Regions from separate parts of the Homo sapiens genome. Here region 2 is linked to region 1. Evidence: fine-mapped expression QTL. Tissue or cell type: whole blood. Region 1 holds a variant in brackets; the other region holds the start of a gene. All regions are shown on one strand. Distances are between the middles of the regions.

Region 1 (8,237 bases):
TGAGTAGCTGGGATTACAGGCAGGTGCCACCACACCCGGCTAATTTTGTATTTTTAGTAGAAACAGGGTTTCTCCATGTTGGTGAGGCTGGTCTCGAACTCCTGACCTCAGGTGATCCACCTGCCTCGGCCTCCCAAAGTGCTGGGATTACAGGCGTGAGCCACGCCTGGCGAGAATCTTTCTTTACTCCTGTTCTTTCTCACCCAGCTGGCTTTGAAAAACTTCCAACCTACAGAAAAGATGAAAGAATAACGAACATGTTTATGCTATTCGCCTAGATTAATCCATTGTTCCCGTTTTTCCGTTTGCTTTGTCTCTCTCCAACTACCTGAAAAATTTATAATTTTTTTCTGCTGAAATATTTAAAAGTCAGTTGCTTGGGGCCAGGTGCGGTGGCTCACACCTGTAATCCCAGCACTTTGGGAGGCCAAGGCGGGAGGATCACGAGGTCAGGAGATCGAGACCATGGTGAAACCCCGTCTCTACTAAAAATACAAAAAAAAATTAGCCAGGCATGGTGGCAGGCGCCTGTAGTCCCAGCTACTCAGGAGGCTGAGGCAGGAGAATGGTGTGAACCCGGGAGGCGGAGCTTGCAGTAAGCCGAGATCATGCCACTGCACTCCAGCCTGGGCGAGAGAGCGAGACTCTGTCTCAAAAAATAAAAATAAAAAATAAAAAATAAAAGTCAGTTGCCAAATCACGGTGCTTCACTCCTAAGTAGTTCAGCATGTATATCCAAAGGGGCGTTCTCCTGTGCAACCATAATATTATTAAGAAAGGAAACAATAAAGTTAGCTAATACACTGTACATATTCAAATTTGCTCAATTGTCCCAGTAATCCCATATAGCTCTCCCACCCCATCCCCACTGCAGACTCCTTTAAACTAGAACAGTTCTCTTAAGATGTATTTAAGTATTTCCACAGTCAAGAAACATCTACTACAAAAATCCACATAATCTTTTTACAACAGAATCTAATGACTTCTAAGACTTTTCTGATCTATCAAAATTTTTCTTATAATTGTGAATGGTGGCTCAAGCTCTCTTGTGTTCTACCTTTACTAGTTTACATTATGGTTTTGTTTTTTTTTTGAGACAGAGTTTTGCTCTGTTGCCCAGGCTGGAGTGCAGTGATCACTGCAACCTCCGCCTTCTGGATTCAAGCAATTCTCCTGCCTTAGCCTCCCGAGTAGCTGGGATTACAGGCGTGTGTCTAATTTTTGTATTTTTAGTAGAGACGGGGTATTCACCATGTTGGCCAGGCTGGTCTTGAACTCCTGACCTCAGGTAATCTGCCCCCACTTGGCCTCCCAAAGTACTGGGATTACAGGGGTGAGCCACTGCACCCGGCCTATTAGCTGACATTATCTTTCATAATTTTTTTTTTTTTTTTTTTACTGTGTGTGAACTGAGAATTCATGCTGTGAGAACAGGCAAAGCCACTCAGGCACTGCAGTAGATGATTTCAAGGTAATTCATGTCTGTTCTTCAATCCATGGTTCTGTGATATTTTAGGTTTAATGGCAAAATGTCATTTCTTCATTAAAGCATAATGTTTGGGCCAGGTGTGGTGGATCATGCCTGTAGTCCCAGCGCTTTGGGAGGCCGAGGAAGGTGGATCACTTGGGGTCAGAAGTTCAAGACCAGCCTGGCCAACATGGCGAACCCCGTCTCCACTAAAAATACAAAATGTAGCCAGTCATGGTGGCACGCGCCTGTAGTCCCAGCTACTCGGGAAGCTGAGGCAGGAGAATCGCCTGAACCCAGGAGGCAGAGGTTGCAATGAGCTGAGATGGCACCACTGCATTCCAGCTTGGGCAACAGAGACAGACTCCATCTCAAAAAAAAAAAAAAAAAAGTATGTTTAATTCTGCACAACAGTGGGGTTTGGGAGCTTTATCACTTTTTTTTTGTTTGTTTGCTATTCTAAGTAGTTTTGTGAGAACATCTCATACAAATAGATCTGTTTTAAAAGTAATTTCCCGGCTGGAGTGGTGGCTTGTGCCTGTAATCCCAGTACTTTGGGGGACCAAGGCAGGAGGATCTCTGGAGCCCAGGAGTTCGGAACCAGCCTGGGCATCATAGTGAGACTCCGTCTCTGTATTTGAAAATGATAACAAAATACCAAGAAGAGATGGAAAAAGTAAATACATAAAAGCAATTTCCCGAGGACAGTGTTTTTCAGAGACTGGTCCTGGACCATCTGTAGCAGAATCACCTGAGGAGCCTGCTAAGCTTCCCAAGCCCTGCCCAGACCTAGGGAATCCTCCGGGTGGAGCCTAAGAGTCTACATTTGAGTATCAGGGCTTTAGGCTATACTGGCTAGCAGAAGGTAAGGCCCATGAAATGGCCCTTTTCATCCATGGCCATGCTGTCCTTGGGAAAGATGGTGGTGGCCGCCGTGTATGACGTCCCTTGTTCCAGCTGTGGGTTTAGAGAATCCCTCAGATTTCCTCTGGAGATTCCAGGTGCCAAGACACCTGTAGGAGGAAGGCCGGAAGGGAAAGGTCAAGTCCGGAGCAGAGGCGTGGACCGCGGCAGGCTGCTGTTGGAGCGTGCTGGGCTCAGAAGCCGGGTTCTAGCTAGGAAACTGCGGAGTGGCCAAGGAGTTCCTGGCGCGAGGCACGCCACACAACCCTCGGATGCGAAGACGGTGACCATCCATTTCTCAATACGCCAGTGGCCCTGCCGTGCTACTGAGCCTCGTCAGCCTGTATAATGGAAGCTGAAGATGATGCAGCTCAGGAAAAGCAAGTATGATCTTAAGAACCCTGTAGCTGGAAAGCATGTTCCAAATCAAACCTAATGGAGACAACTACTAGAAGGTATAAAAGTTTTTTTTTTTTTTGAGACAGAATTTTGCTCCTGTTGCCTAGGCTGGAGTGCAGTGGCGCGGTCTCAGCTCACTGCAGCCTCTGCCTCGCCGGTTCAAACGATTCTCCTGCCTCAGCCTCCCAAGTAGCTGAGACTACAGGCGCCCACCACCACGCCCGGCTACTTTTTGTATTTTTGGTAGGGACGGGGTTTCACCATGTTGGCCAGACTGATCTCAAACTCCTGACCTCAGATGATCCGCCCGCCTCACCCTCCCAAAGTGTTGGGATTACAGGCGTGAGCCACCGCGCCCAGCCCAAAAGATTTTAAAAAGGAGTCTCTTGGAGGCAAAGGGACAGAACATTATTGTTTTTCATCATAAACCTTTTGGTGCAATCTGATTTTCTTTTTTTAAACCATGTACTTGCACTATTTTTATCTCAAAAAAGGTTTTTAATGCATTTAAAAACAAAGAAAAGAATGGTTTATAATACACCGTTAGGCTTCTGGGAGGTCTGAAACACACTATGAACCGTAAAATAACCTTGTAATTATCTCCTTAAAAACCGAGTGGGGTGGGCCAGGCGTGGTGGCTCACGCCTGTAATCCCAGCACTTTGGGAGGCCGAGGCGGGCGGATCACGAGGTCAGGAGTTCGAGACCAGCCTGACCAACATGGTGAAACTCCGTCTCCACTAAAAATACAAAAATTAGCCGGGCGTCGTGGCGCGCCCCTGTAGTCCCAGCTATTCAGTCGCAGAAGAATCGCTTGAATTCGGCAGGCGGAGGCTGCAGTCAGCAGAGACCGCGCCACTGCATTCCAGCCTGGGCGACAGAGACTCCGTCTCAAATAAACAAACCAAAACTGAACTACGGAGACGCCCTCGACAGTTCTTTCCCGGCTGCGTCGCCGCTGGCTGAGGTCAGAAACGCCGGCCT[TCGGCTGCGGCGG/T]CGGCTGCGGCGGCGGGGCGGGGCCGCGGGACTCTCGCTCCTCGCGGGAGGCGGTGGCTGCGGAGTGCGCACGCGCGGAACCGCAATTCCGTTCTTCCCGGAAGTGCCCTGCTGGTGCTGGGAGTAGGGCGCAAGATGTCGGCGGATGCAGCTCCGAGGAGGTAGGCAGTGGGAGCCGGCGTTCAGTCCGGCCCGTGCCAACAGTGGTTCCTCTCTCCCCCGTAGTTCGAGGAGACCACGCGCTGCCCCTCTGGCACGATCGTGGATGAACCCCCTGGCAACTGAAATGGGAAAGGCAGCGCCCCCGACTCTGGGGACTGGACCGAAGTCCACGGTAGTGACAGCTGCCAGACCCTGAGGAGAGGACGAGAAGACCCGAGGCCTCTGCTACGAACACTGGCAGCCGATGGAAAATTCAGACGGATTTGGGACAGTATGCAGAGTTCTCCAAGCGACAGATTAACAGAGGCTCTTGAAGAATAACTGCGTAATCACGTGTTCTGCTCAAAAGAAGGCCTGAATGCCCAGTGCCTTATTTGGCTTTCAGGGTTGGTGAAAGAAAAAGCAAAGTAGATGCTTTCTAATGCTAAGTCATTTAATGTAGCACCATTCCTTGAACTTCTTTCATCTCTAAGGTCGTCCCTTTCACCTGATGATGACCTTTGGGCCATCGTACAGGCATGTGTAAACTTGGAGATCTTCCTCAACATTGCACCATATCTTGGGTTCATTCAAGGCAGAGTCTCCTTGCAAAAGCATTCTAAAACAATGTAAAGTCGAAGAGAGTAGAGCAATACCTCCATAGTTGGAAAATGTGGAGGAGGCCAATTAAGGGACAGAAAAAGAAGTGCAGAGAATCTTGGAATTGTTGCAAAATTATTCTGGAGATATTTCTAAGTCTCCTCTATCCTTTTCCTTAGTGATTAATACAGGTTTTTATATTAAGTGGACAGTAAAATCCAAACAGAAAGAGGTATATGTCGTATAATGAAGCCTATGTTCAAAGTATATCTGAAATTTGTTTTTATAATGTCTTTCTTGAGAGCTTATAAAGATGTCAGTATTCTGTGGGAAACAAATTGGCACATGCATAAAAGAGAAAAAATGAAAAAAATCAGGCCCAACTTTCAGTTTACAGATGAGGAAACTGTGACATAGAAAAGGAAATGACAAAGATCACACTGAATCAGACCTGGGAACTGGAGCCCAGCCATGCTCCTTGGCCCAGTGCCTCTTCTTATTCTAGGAGCTCATACCCCTTTGAAAGAAACATAATATGAATGTGTCTTCAAATGATGCTCATAAATCTCTTCATCATACTGAGGGAGGGAGATAAGGGGATTAGTTCTTCAGGATCTAGACAGGCTTTCAAGAAAATCTTTAGCTGGGTGCGGTGGCTCATTCGTGTAATCCCAGCGCTTTGGGAGGCTGAGGCAGGTGGATCACCTGAGGTCAGGAGTTCCAGATCAGGCTGGCCAACAGCGTCTCTACTAAAAATACAAAAATTAGCCAGGCATGGTGGCGGGAGCCTGTAATCCCAGCTACTCGGGAGGCTGAGGCAGGAGAATCGCTTGAACCTGGGAGGCGGAGGTTGCAGTGAAGTGAGATCGTGCCATTGCACTCCAGGGCAACGAGTGAAACTCCATCTCAAAAAAAAAAAAAAAATCATCATCATCATCATCTTAGCAGAGCTCTCGCTAAATGATAAAGACTTGGCAACTGATATCCTTTTTTTCAGAGAACTTAAGTAGAGACTGGATAATCACTAATTGGGGTTGTGTTTAAGGGCATTCAAACCTCTGAAATCTCTTCCATCTGCAGGTCTAATTATTTGGTTACTCTTTCAGTACATGTGTGCAGGAAGCATGGGGGGAAAGAAAACTAATCCCTCTCCAAAGTCTTCTTTGAATAGGTATTATGTTTGCATTTTCATACATGTTAGTTCACTTAGTCTTCACCATAGGCTTTCTAGGTTGGTATTATTCTTAGTCTACCTAAGAAGTTCACAAAGGTTAGGTGACATGCTCCAAGCCACACAGATGATAGGCGGCACAACCAGATGATACTACAGGTCTCCAGATGAGTGAGCCAATGATTACATAGTTTGTTCCCCAGCCCCTCCCCAGTGTAGGTAAAGTGCCTGCACTGCTCACTGGGTCATCAGAGCAAGTTGCTCCCACTGCCCTCTTGGTCTAACGGCTAGAAACAAAGCTGCAACAGAGGCCCACTCCTACTAGGAGACAGGCATTTTAATTGGCACCTCCTTACAAAGGCTCCAGTGTTCTAGAGCTTTGCATACAGGAAGATTCTCGTTGAACAATGAAGCCAAACCTCGCTTCCAAAATTCCCAGTTTGGTAGTTCACTGTGGATGAAGAGGCCGGAGACACCCTTAGACAAGCTGGGACCGTGATGATAGGAACCAGTTTGTGAAGGGAGGAGGCTGGGCTAACAGGATCTAGGGAGATAGATGATATCTGGACCTTAGGTAGTTCGTGTTACTCAAAGTCAGCAAGGTTTTTGTTGTTTTTTGAGACAGTCTTGTTATGTTGCCCAGCCTGGAGTGCAGCAGTGCGATCTCAGCTCGCTGCAACCTCCACCCCGTGGGTTCAAGCAATTCTTGTGCCTCAGCCTCCTGAGTAGCTGGGACTACAGGTGCGGGCCGCCACACTTGGCTAATTTTTTGTACTTTTAGTAGAGATGGAGTTTCACCATGTTGGCCAGGCTGGTCTTGAAGTCCTGTCCTCAAGTGATCTGCCTGCCGCAGCTTACCACAAGTGCTGGGATTACAGGTGTGAGCCACTGCACCTGGCCAAGATCATTTGATGTTCTTGGGTGAATGGCCACTTTCACCTGGATCCCACCAATTTTTGGTGCCCTAGGGAGCATGATCCAGAGTTCCCTCAAGACAGAGGATGTGCTAAAGGCAAACTCCAGAGGTCATCCTATCCCCATGCCTTCCGCCTTTCTAAAGAGAAGCTCTTCTGCCCTGCTGTTACCACTCAGTACTCTAGATTAAACCTGTTCCCCACGTTCATTCTGTACCCATGACTATATTTCTGCTTCCTGGAAAGTTGTAGCCATAGGAATGAAAAACTCACCAATCAGTTGTGGTCTTCCTGAGGCAAGTCAGTCACCTTCCTACTCTGGTATCTTCCATGGCTACCAGCTGGCCACAGAACCAAGCACTGACTCACCAGCCTCCAGTCTGGTTCCTTTTCAGCCTTTTTGCCACCCCTACAGCCCATACTACATCATCCATTCTGGCCATCTCAGATTCTTCCTTGCTAGCTCCCACCTTTCCCTGCATCCAGTCCTCTGTACTATTTCATCTATTTGAACACTCTTTTCTCCCTGCATCCTGGGTCTCCATTCAAATCTTCCTCTTCCCTGGAAGTACAGCTTCAGTGGTTAACATCACAAAGCAAAGCTGACTTCAGCAAACTTTCCAAGACAACCAGGGACCAACACAGTTCAGATTAAAGGGGATAAATAAAGTGGCTTTAAGATCACTTGTAGTTCAGAGGTCACCCAGGGGATTAGGATCTATGCAGAGACCTGCAGAGCCACGCTGCTTCCCCAAGGGACCCCCTTCATGCTGCTGGAACTTGCCCTACCCCTCAGGAGAAACTGGGCTGCTGTAGCTGCGTCACGCAGGCGGCTGTGGGCCAGCCCGGAGCAAAACTGTGTTGCTTGGCATTTCTCCACTTCCTCTCGTGGCCGACGTCATTCTGTGACTGTGCAGGGATTCATGCTCGCCATTGCACTCCACAGTGAGATACTTGAATTGATTTAAAATTTATTCACCCCAGTGTTCACTCCCACCTTAGCCCCATTCCATGCGCCCTTACCCTTACTCATCGCAGTATCAAAATAACTCCCAAATGGGATTGCTGTGCTTGAACACCTCCCATCATGCCTCTTACCTTCTGCATGCATTTAGTTAGTTCCTGAAGCATACAGCCCCCTCACCTGCAAGCCCCGCCTCAGCGCACACCCTTGCCAGGTTGGAGGAAGTCCTGGTACCCGGAGCAGTTTGCTTTGTTTTTGCAGTGTCAGTGATCTCACAAGCACTTGGTTGGCCACACAGTCCTATCGATAACTTCCAGCAGATAACCCAAGTGGGTGACTGGGGGGTGGAAGCCAGGTCTCGGTTCCTGTGTGTGACCCAAGGCCCCCCAGCACAGGGCCCACCCTCTCATCTGGCTCAGCCAGGTCTTGCAGAATGGGCTCTGCTGAGATCTAACCAGACACATTTGCTATCTGTTAGGTGAGCTCATTCCTGGAACCTAGCAGGTATTCCGTTCATGGCTGACTCTCAAGGGAATGAAGGGAAAAGGAAGAGCGGGTCTGAGATCCTTTGGATTATCTTTACGAAGCAAAAGCTTCTGTGAACTGTGATCTTCAGAACGAATGCTGGGCCTATCCAGGTCTGTCCGCAGTACCCAAAGTCGTAGCTCCGTGATGAGCTATG
Region 2 (8,187 bases), 48 kb after region 1:
AGTGCTGGCCTAAGCCACTGTCAGCTGGAGGCCCAACATACCTGGATTGTGAGCTGTCTGGCCAGAAGAGCCCCGACGGTGTCACACAGACTGGTCAGGAGGCAGCACGCAGCACACAGTGCCGACTGGTCCTGTCTGGGTTTCTGTGCACATCTCAGATAGAGAAGCCTGGGGTGACAGGGGTGTGGACAGAACACAGCAACTGTGAGTTTGGACCCAAACGCATGTATCTAAAAAGGGCAACTGTGACCCCGCATCGTCAGGGAGCTCTTTCTGCCCGAGGTATTTAGGACGTGTTTTTGAACTGAGTTTACAGATGGGAACCAATCAGAAGACTCCAGAGCCGCCTGTCCAGATGCCCATGGCAGGAGCTAGACCTCGTGAGATGTGAAGACACCGCCTCTTTGGAGGAAGAGGAATTTTACTTTCCGACTCCAAATCAGGACGGCTCCATTTGATGACCCCCCACCTAGCACTGAAAAAGCAGCCATCGGGTTTTATTTTTTGAAAAGGAAACAGGAGGGTTATAAAAGTAACTCAGGCTGGGTATGGTGGCTCACACCTGTAATCCCAGCAGTTTGGGAGGCCGAGGCAGGAGGATCCTCTGAGGTCAGGAGTTCGAGACCATCCTGGCCAACATGGTGAAACCCCGCCCCTACTAAAAATACAAAAATTAGCCGGGTGTGGTGGCGTGCGCCTGTAATCCCAGCTACTCCGGAGGCTGAGGCAAGAGAATTGCTTGAACCCAGGAGGCAGAGGTTGCAGTGAGCCAAGATCACACCATTGCACTCCAGCCTGGGTGACAAAGCGAGACTCCGTCTCAAAAAAAAAAAAAAGCAACCCAACCACTGCAGATAACTGCAGAGCACAGTTAATTGCCTGAATTAAAAAGACAACTTGTTTCTCTGAAATAAATTCAAACGAAATTCTTCTAAACCATCTGTGAAGTGGGGCAGCCTGGCTTCTGCTGGCCTGTGTCCATGTTCTTTAAACACAGAGCCCTTTTGGCACTTGGAGCTGTCCCTCCCTCAGCGCCCCCACAGCCACTTCTCCCCTTACAGCCCCTCCCCAGTCCATATCCACTGGAGAAGATGCACGGAAGGGCAGGAAGGGGCTGGCTGTTTCTATCAGCGTCACTGATAGGGCCTCTGAAATACGTTGTTGTACATGCCTCCCGAAGGGGCTGGCTGTATCTATCGGCGTCACTGATAGGGCCTCTGAAATACATTGTCGTACATGCCTCCTGAAGGGGCTGGCTGTTTCTATCGGCGTCCCTGATAGGGCCTCTGAAACACGTTGTCGTACCTGCCTCCCGAAGGGGCTGGCTGTTTCCATCGGCGTCACTGACAGGGCCCCTGAAATAATACGCTGTCGTACCTGCCTCCCGGAGGGGCTGGCTGTTTCCATCGGCGTCACTGATAGGGCCCCTGAAATAATACGCTGTCGTACCTGCCTCCCGGAGGGGCTGGCTGTTTCCATCGGCGTCACTGATAGGGCCCCTGAAATAATACGCTGTCGTACCTGCCTCCCGAAGGGGCTGGCTGTTTCCATCGGCGTCACTGATAGGGCCCCTGAAATAATACGCTGTCGTACTGCCTCCCGAAGGGGCTGGCTGTTTCCATCGGCGTCACTGATAGGGCCCCTGAAATAGTATGCTGTCGTACCTGCCTCCAGAAGGGGCTGGCTGTTTCCATCGGCGTCACTGATAGGGTCCCTGAAATAATACGCTGTCGTACCTGCCTCCCGAAGGGGCTGGCTGTTTCCATCGGCGTCACTGATAGGGCCCCTGAAATAATACGCTGTCGTACCTGCTTCCCGAAGGGGCTGGCTGTTTCCATCGGCGTCACTGATAGGGCCCCTGAAATAATACGCTGTCGTACTGCCTCCCGAAGGGGCTGGCTGTTTCCATCGGCGTCACTGATAGGGCCCCTGAAATAGTATGCTGTCGTACCTGCCTCCAGAAGGGGCTGGCTGTTTCCATCGGCGTCACTGATAGGGCCCCTGAAATGATACGCTGTCGTACCTGCCTCCCGAAGGGGCTGGCTGTTTCCGTCGGCATCACTGATAGGGCCCCTGAAATAATACGCTGTCGTACTGCCTCCCGAAGGGGCTGGCTGTTTCCATCGGCGTCACTGATAGGGCCCCTGAAATAGTATGCTGTCGTACCTGCCTCCAGAAGGGGCTGGCTGTTTCCATCGGCGTCACTGATAGGGCCCCTGAAATGATACGCTGTCGTACCTGCCTCCCGAAGGGGCTGGCTGTTTCCATCGGCGTCACTGATAGGGCCCCTGAAATAGTATGCTGTCGTACCTGCCTCCAGAAGGGGCTGGCTGTTTCCATCGGCGTCACTGATAGGGCCCCTGAAATGATACGCTGTCGTACCTGCCTCCCGAAGGGGCTGGCTGTTTCCGTCGGCGTCACTGATGGGGCCTCTGAAATACGTTGTCGCACGTGCCTCCTGGAGGGGCTGGCTGTTTCCGTCGGCATCACTGATAGGGCCTCTGAAATAATACGCTGTCGTACCTGCCTCCCGAAGGGGCTGGCTGTTTCCGTCAGCGTCACTGATGGGGCCTCTGAAATACGTTGTCGCACATGCCTCCTGGAGGGGCTGGCTGTTTCCGTCGGCATCACTGATAGGGCCTCTGAAATAATACGCTGTTGTACCTGCCTCCCGAAGGGGCTGGCTGTTTCCGTCGGCATCACTGATAGGGCCTCTGAAATAATACGTTGTCGCACGTGCCTCCCGAAGGGGCTGGCTGTTTCTATTGGCGTCACCGATAGGGCCTCTGAAATACGTTGTCATACCTGCCTCCCGAAGGGGCTGGCTGTTTCCCTCAGCGTCACTGATAGGGCCTCTGAAATATGTTGTCGTACCTGCCTTCCGAAGGGGCTGGCTGTTTCTATCGGCGTCACTGATAGGGCCTCTGAAATACATTGTCGTACCTGCCTCCTTGCTACATTTCTCTGGAGACACCGAGACAGGGTGGCAGCGCTGGCTTCATTTCCACTCAGCAGAGGGTGGTGCTCATTCCACATCCTTAGGACGATTTAGCTGATTCTGAGCGCCTGTCCTTGGGAATGGTGGATGAGTACAGAGGGCTCTTGGCTTTCTAAACATTTCCTGACCTGCTGGCCCAAGCCTGAAGCTCACAGTGGCAACATCAACTTCAGTCTGGGCCCTGGGCTCCTAAAACCAATTGAAGACCAAGGAGTGGAGATTCTTAAATTGGAGACTCCCAGAGGCGGACCCCAATTAGAAATAATTTATATCAACCCTCCCATTTGAGAGGACAAAACTGAGGCCTCTGGTGAGAAGGTGAGTTAATGGTGGTCTTCTGGCTTCACACGCGGGGGCTTTGCTCCGTACCCTGTTGTTCTCAGCCACTTCCCCAGCTCTTGGGGCCAGGGTGCCAGCTGACCTTAACCCAGCCCACACACCACTCCGAAGACACATTCTTCTAAGAGAAAGGGGAGCAGGGGAGGTTCAGGGATGGCAAGGCCCTGAAAACAAATGGGTATGTCCAGATCCCAGGCAGGGTGAGAAGCAGAGGCTCACTCTTAACCCCTCCAAGGTTGGCAAAGTGCCTAACAGTGCTGGTCTGAGGACAACTGTGAGGAACAAAAGGATAATGCGTGTCCAGCGCCTTGTTAGTTTCCAGCCTCTGATCTGAACAGTTTAATCTCTCTTACCAGCCTGCCCCTTTCCAATAGGATCTGGGGTTTTGGTTCTTTCCTTTCACTCAGACAAGTTATTTAACCTCTCAGAACCTCAGGGTTCCCTACAGAAAGTGGGGGTAACAGCACCTACCTCCTGGTGCTGATATTGTGAGTGGCAGGCATTGAATGAGTTAATGAATGCAACACTGGGCCTACAGTAAATGTTCTAGGCGTCTTTTTATTTGTATTGCAGTACTGGGTAGTGGGGCTGCAGAATCTCTGCAATACGACCAAACGCCTTAGGAGAATATCCACTGAGTGCCTACAGGGAGACAGTTCTAACCTCTCCCAGGGGTGCTGGTCCTTTCTCCCCTGCCAGGGAATGCTTGGGCGGCACCATCCTGAGCACTGCTAGTGGATTTCCATGCCTAGGACAGAGCGGCTGAGGACCTGGAGATTCACTCTTAGAACTTAGGCTACCGTGGGCATCTGGACAAACCAGTCCAGGTGCTGGACAGACCAGGGCAAAGACAGGCCAGCTGGATCATATCACTACCTCCCTTCCCACCTAAGAGGACTTTGGGTAAACTGAGGCCAGAAACATCAAGGGACTTGCCAAGGTCCTAAGAGTTGGTGGCCTAGCTGGAGCAATACAAATGATGTTTAATGAGCATTTACTAAGTGCTTTAACGGTACTGATTCATCGAATCCTCCCATCATCCTATGAGGTATTATCTCCGGTCATAGGAGGCCCAGAGAGGTTCTGGAGCTTGCCCAGGTCACACTGCGAGTCAATGGCGAAGGGCTGACAATAGCACCCAGGGCTCGCGGTGTCCTCGGGGCCCCATCCGCTGCACCACCCAGCCTCCTCCCTTTGGCTCACAGCCCAGCTTCCCTGTGCGTGGGATCCGGAAAGAAGATCCCACTTCAGTCTACAGAGCAATGTTCCATTGGATCCTATTACTGAGCCATCTCCTTCATCCCCCTTTCCGCCCCCTCCTCTAGGTTTCCGAGAGGGAGCAGCAGGGGATTGGCGCCCGTTTCCCCGCCCGACAGCCCCCCGACCCGTGGCCCCATTACAGCGCGTGGGCGGCGATCCAGCAGGAGGAGGCGCAGATCCACAGGCCGAAGGAGATGCAGACGCGGTGGCGGGCGAAGCAGCGGTCCAGGTAGTCCCAGTCCCAGAGCGCGGGCGCGGGGCTGGGCGCCTCCCCCATGGCGCGGCTGGGCGCGCGGCGCGGGGCCGGGGACCTGGGCGCAGCCTCCCTCGCCGCGGGCAAGCCCCGAGCGCCGCCGCCCCGCGTGCCCTTCTCTGGGTTCCGTTCCGCCGCGGCGCCTCCGGCCGAGCGCACCGACCGCGGGCAGAGAAGGGCGCGCTCCCGGGCGCGGGCGGCGGCGGCGAAGGCGCCGGGGAAAAGTTTCCGGGACCGCGCGCTCCCCACCCCTCGCGCTATTGTCGGGGGTCGGCAGGGCGGAGGCCGCCCCCCAGCGGCGGGAGCCGGGAGCTGCGCGCGCACAAAGACTGCGGCCCCCGCCCCCCGCCGACCTCTTCGCGGTCACCCACCTCCAACATCCTGGCCGGAGCGGGGCGGGCGGCTGGGCTCGCGGACGGCCGAGTCCCTGCCGGTCGCTGTAAGGCACGGCGTCCCTTCCTGCGTATTGTCCACATTTCCTGAGCCAACAGCAATTAGTTGCGCTGCTGAAGCGCATGGGTGCTGGGATCCCGAGGTGAAGGGGGCGTGGTCCTGATCGCCGACAGGGCGCAGTAAAAAGGGTGGGGTGCAAGACCAGGAAGGAGGAAACAAACGTGCCGGAGAACAAATACCCCCACATCTGCCTCTCACTCTCCTTTCTGAAGCTGCCAACGGCACCCTCCGCCCCCAGGCAGTCGCCCAAGCCCTGCTCCTGGATGTCATCCTAGCCCACGGCCCCGCAGCCAAGAGCTGGTTATCTCTGCAACCGGCCGCCTCCTGTCCAGCCACACACCGCACAGTTCAAGTACACAGGGCTGTTTTTCTTGAGAGTAAACTATTATTGTAATTTTTAAATCTCCTTATTGATTTTAGTAGGTTTGTTTAAAGCAAGACATGACTTGAAAACAATATTTCTATAGAAGGAGCAGGATTGAAAAAAAGAAAAAAAATCTTTTTTAATTTTCAAAAACTACAGCTTTATTTAGATATTATTTATATGCCATAAGCATAGTCTTTTTTTTTTTTTTTTTTTTTGAGACAGAGTCTCACTCTGTTGCCCAGGCTGGAATGCAATGGTGCGATCTCAGCTCCCTGCAGCCTCCGCCTCCCAGGTTCAAGCAATTCTCCTGCCTCCGCCTCCCAAGTAGCTGGGACTACAGGTGCCCGCCACCACACCCGAGTAATTTTTGTATTTTTAGTAGAGACGGTGTTTCACCATGTTGGCCAGGCTGGTCTTAAACTCCTGACCTCGTGATCTGCCCTCCTCAGCCTCTTAAAGTGCTGGGATTACAGGTGTGAGCCACCACATCCAGCCTACATAGTACTTTTAAAATGTACAATTCTGGCCAGGCACGGTGGCTCACAACTGTAGTCCCTGCACTTTGGGAGGCTGAGGCAGGCGGATCACTTGAGGTCAGGAGCTCAAGACCGGCCTGGCCAACATGGTGAAACACTGTCTCTACTAAAAATACAAAAATTAGCCGGGCATGGTGGTGCGCGCCTGTAATCCCAGCACTTTGGGAGGCCGAGGCAGGTGGATCACTTGAGGTCAGGAGTTTGAGACCACCCTGGCCAACATGGTGAAACCCCATCTCTACTAAAAACACAAAAATTAGCCAGGCATGATGGCAGGCGCCTGTAATCCCAGCTACTCGGGAGACTGAGGCAGGAGAACTGCTTGAACCTGGGAGGCGGAGATTGCTGTGAGCTGAGATGGCGCCACTGCACTCCAGCCTGGGCGACAGAGCAAGACTCCATCTCAAAACAAAACAAAAAATAAAATGTACAATTCAGCAGTTTTTAGTGTATCCATAGCGTTGTGCAACCAACATCACTGTCTACTTTTAGAACATTTTCATCACCCCCATCTGAAAAGAACCCGGCCCACTGGCAGTTACTGTCCACTCCCCTCAACACTCGCAGCCCAGGAATCGCAAATCTACCTTCTGTCTCTATGGATTTGCCCATTTTGGACATTCCACATCAATGGAATCATCCACTATATGACCTTTCTGTGACTTTCACTTAGCATGTTTTCAAGGTTCATTCATGTTGCTGCGTGTTATCAGTACTTCATTCCTGTTTATGGCTCATCATAATACATGGTATGGGTATTTTTATACCACATTTCGTTTATCCACTCATTAGTGGGATGTTTGGATTGCTTTCACCTTTGGGCTATTATGAATAATGCTGCTCTGAACATTTGTGCACAAGTTTTTGTGTGGACACAGGTTTCATGCTCTCTTGGGTATATACCTAGGAGTGTCCTTGCTGGGATCTGTGGTAACTGTGTTTAATGTTTTGAGGAATTGCCAGACTATTTTCCAAAGTGGCTACACTATTTTAGTGGTTCACTGTGTTTTCAAAGTTATGATTTGGCTTGGTAAGGTGGCTCATGCCTGTAATCCCAGCACTCTGGGAGGCCAAGGTGGGAGGATCAGTGGAGCCCAGGAGTTGGAGACCAGCCTAGACAACATAGGGAGACCCCGGTCTCTCAAAACAAAACAAAGTTATAACCTCTCAGGAGAAATGAAATCTAATCACTAATTTGATGGTATTAGATTGGTGCAAAAGTAATTGTGGTTTTGGCTATTAAAAGTACTGGAAGCGGTAGCTCACGCCTGTAATCACAGCACTTTGGGAGGCTGAGGCGGGTGGATCACTTGAGGTCAGGAGTTCCGGACCAGCCTGGCCAACATGGTGAAACCCTGTCTCTACTAAAAATACAAAAATTAGCTGGGTGTGGTGGCAGGCACCTGTAATCCCAGCTACTTGGGAGGCGGAGGCAGGAGAATCTCTTGAACCTGGGAGGCAGAGGTTGCAGTGAGCCGAGATCACGCCACTGCACTCCAGCCTGGGCAACAGAGCAAGACTCTGTCTCAAACAAACAAACAAAACAAAACAAAACAAAAAAAGCCAGATAAAAGTACTTTGGTACAAAAGTAATTGCAGTTTTGGCCATTAAAAGTAAGCTTTGGTGCAAAAGTAATTGCGGTTTTGGCCATTAAGAGTAAGCCACTTTTTTTGGCCATTAAAAGTGGCTTACATTTAATGGCCAAAACCGCAATTACTTTTGCACCAAACTATATTAGGTGGCGCCTTTAGGAACCAGAAAGCAGGCCCTTCAACTAAATCTGCAGGCACCTTGATCTCGGACTTCCTAGCTTCCACAACTGTGAAAAACAAATCTGTGTTATTTACACGCCACTCAGTCCAAAGCATTTTGTTATAGTAGCTCAAATAGACTAAGACAGGCATTGCGTTAGGAGCTGGGAACACACTATTGAGTAAAACAGACATGGGTCCTACTTACTTGGAGCTTACAGTCCAGTAG

The links. PIP is the estimated chance that this variant, and not a neighbour inherited with it, causes the effect.
Region 2: TMEM44 starts here. The variant in region 1 is fine-mapped to the expression of TMEM44 in whole blood (TOPMed, PIP 0.96).

What each region holds. Positions count from the first base shown.
Region 1 is chr3:194,580,136-194,588,372 of GRCh38, forward strand. TMEM44 (transmembrane protein 44) reads right to left here. Exons shown (of 10, transcript NM_001011655.3): 10 at 7,543-8,237. TMEM44-AS1 (TMEM44 antisense RNA 1) reads left to right here and starts at 4,133. Exons shown (of 3, transcript NR_047575.1): 1 at 4,133-4,313. RefSeq lists enhancers at 3,399-4,064, 4,100-4,149 and a silencer at 3,650-3,909. The variant TCGGCTGCGGCGG/T (reference allele first, on the strand shown) is at 3,754.
Region 2 is chr3:194,628,342-194,636,528 of GRCh38, forward strand. It overlaps TMEM44 (transmembrane protein 44), which reads right to left and starts at 5,078. Exons shown (of 10, transcript NM_001011655.3): 1 at 4,738-5,078; 2 at 42-168. The coding sequence starts at 4,874. It overlaps TMEM44-AS2 (TMEM44 antisense RNA 2), which reads left to right and starts at 4,587. Exons shown (of 2, transcript NR_186047.1): 1 at 4,587-4,826. RefSeq lists a silencer at 4,847-5,276 and an enhancer at 7,827-8,187.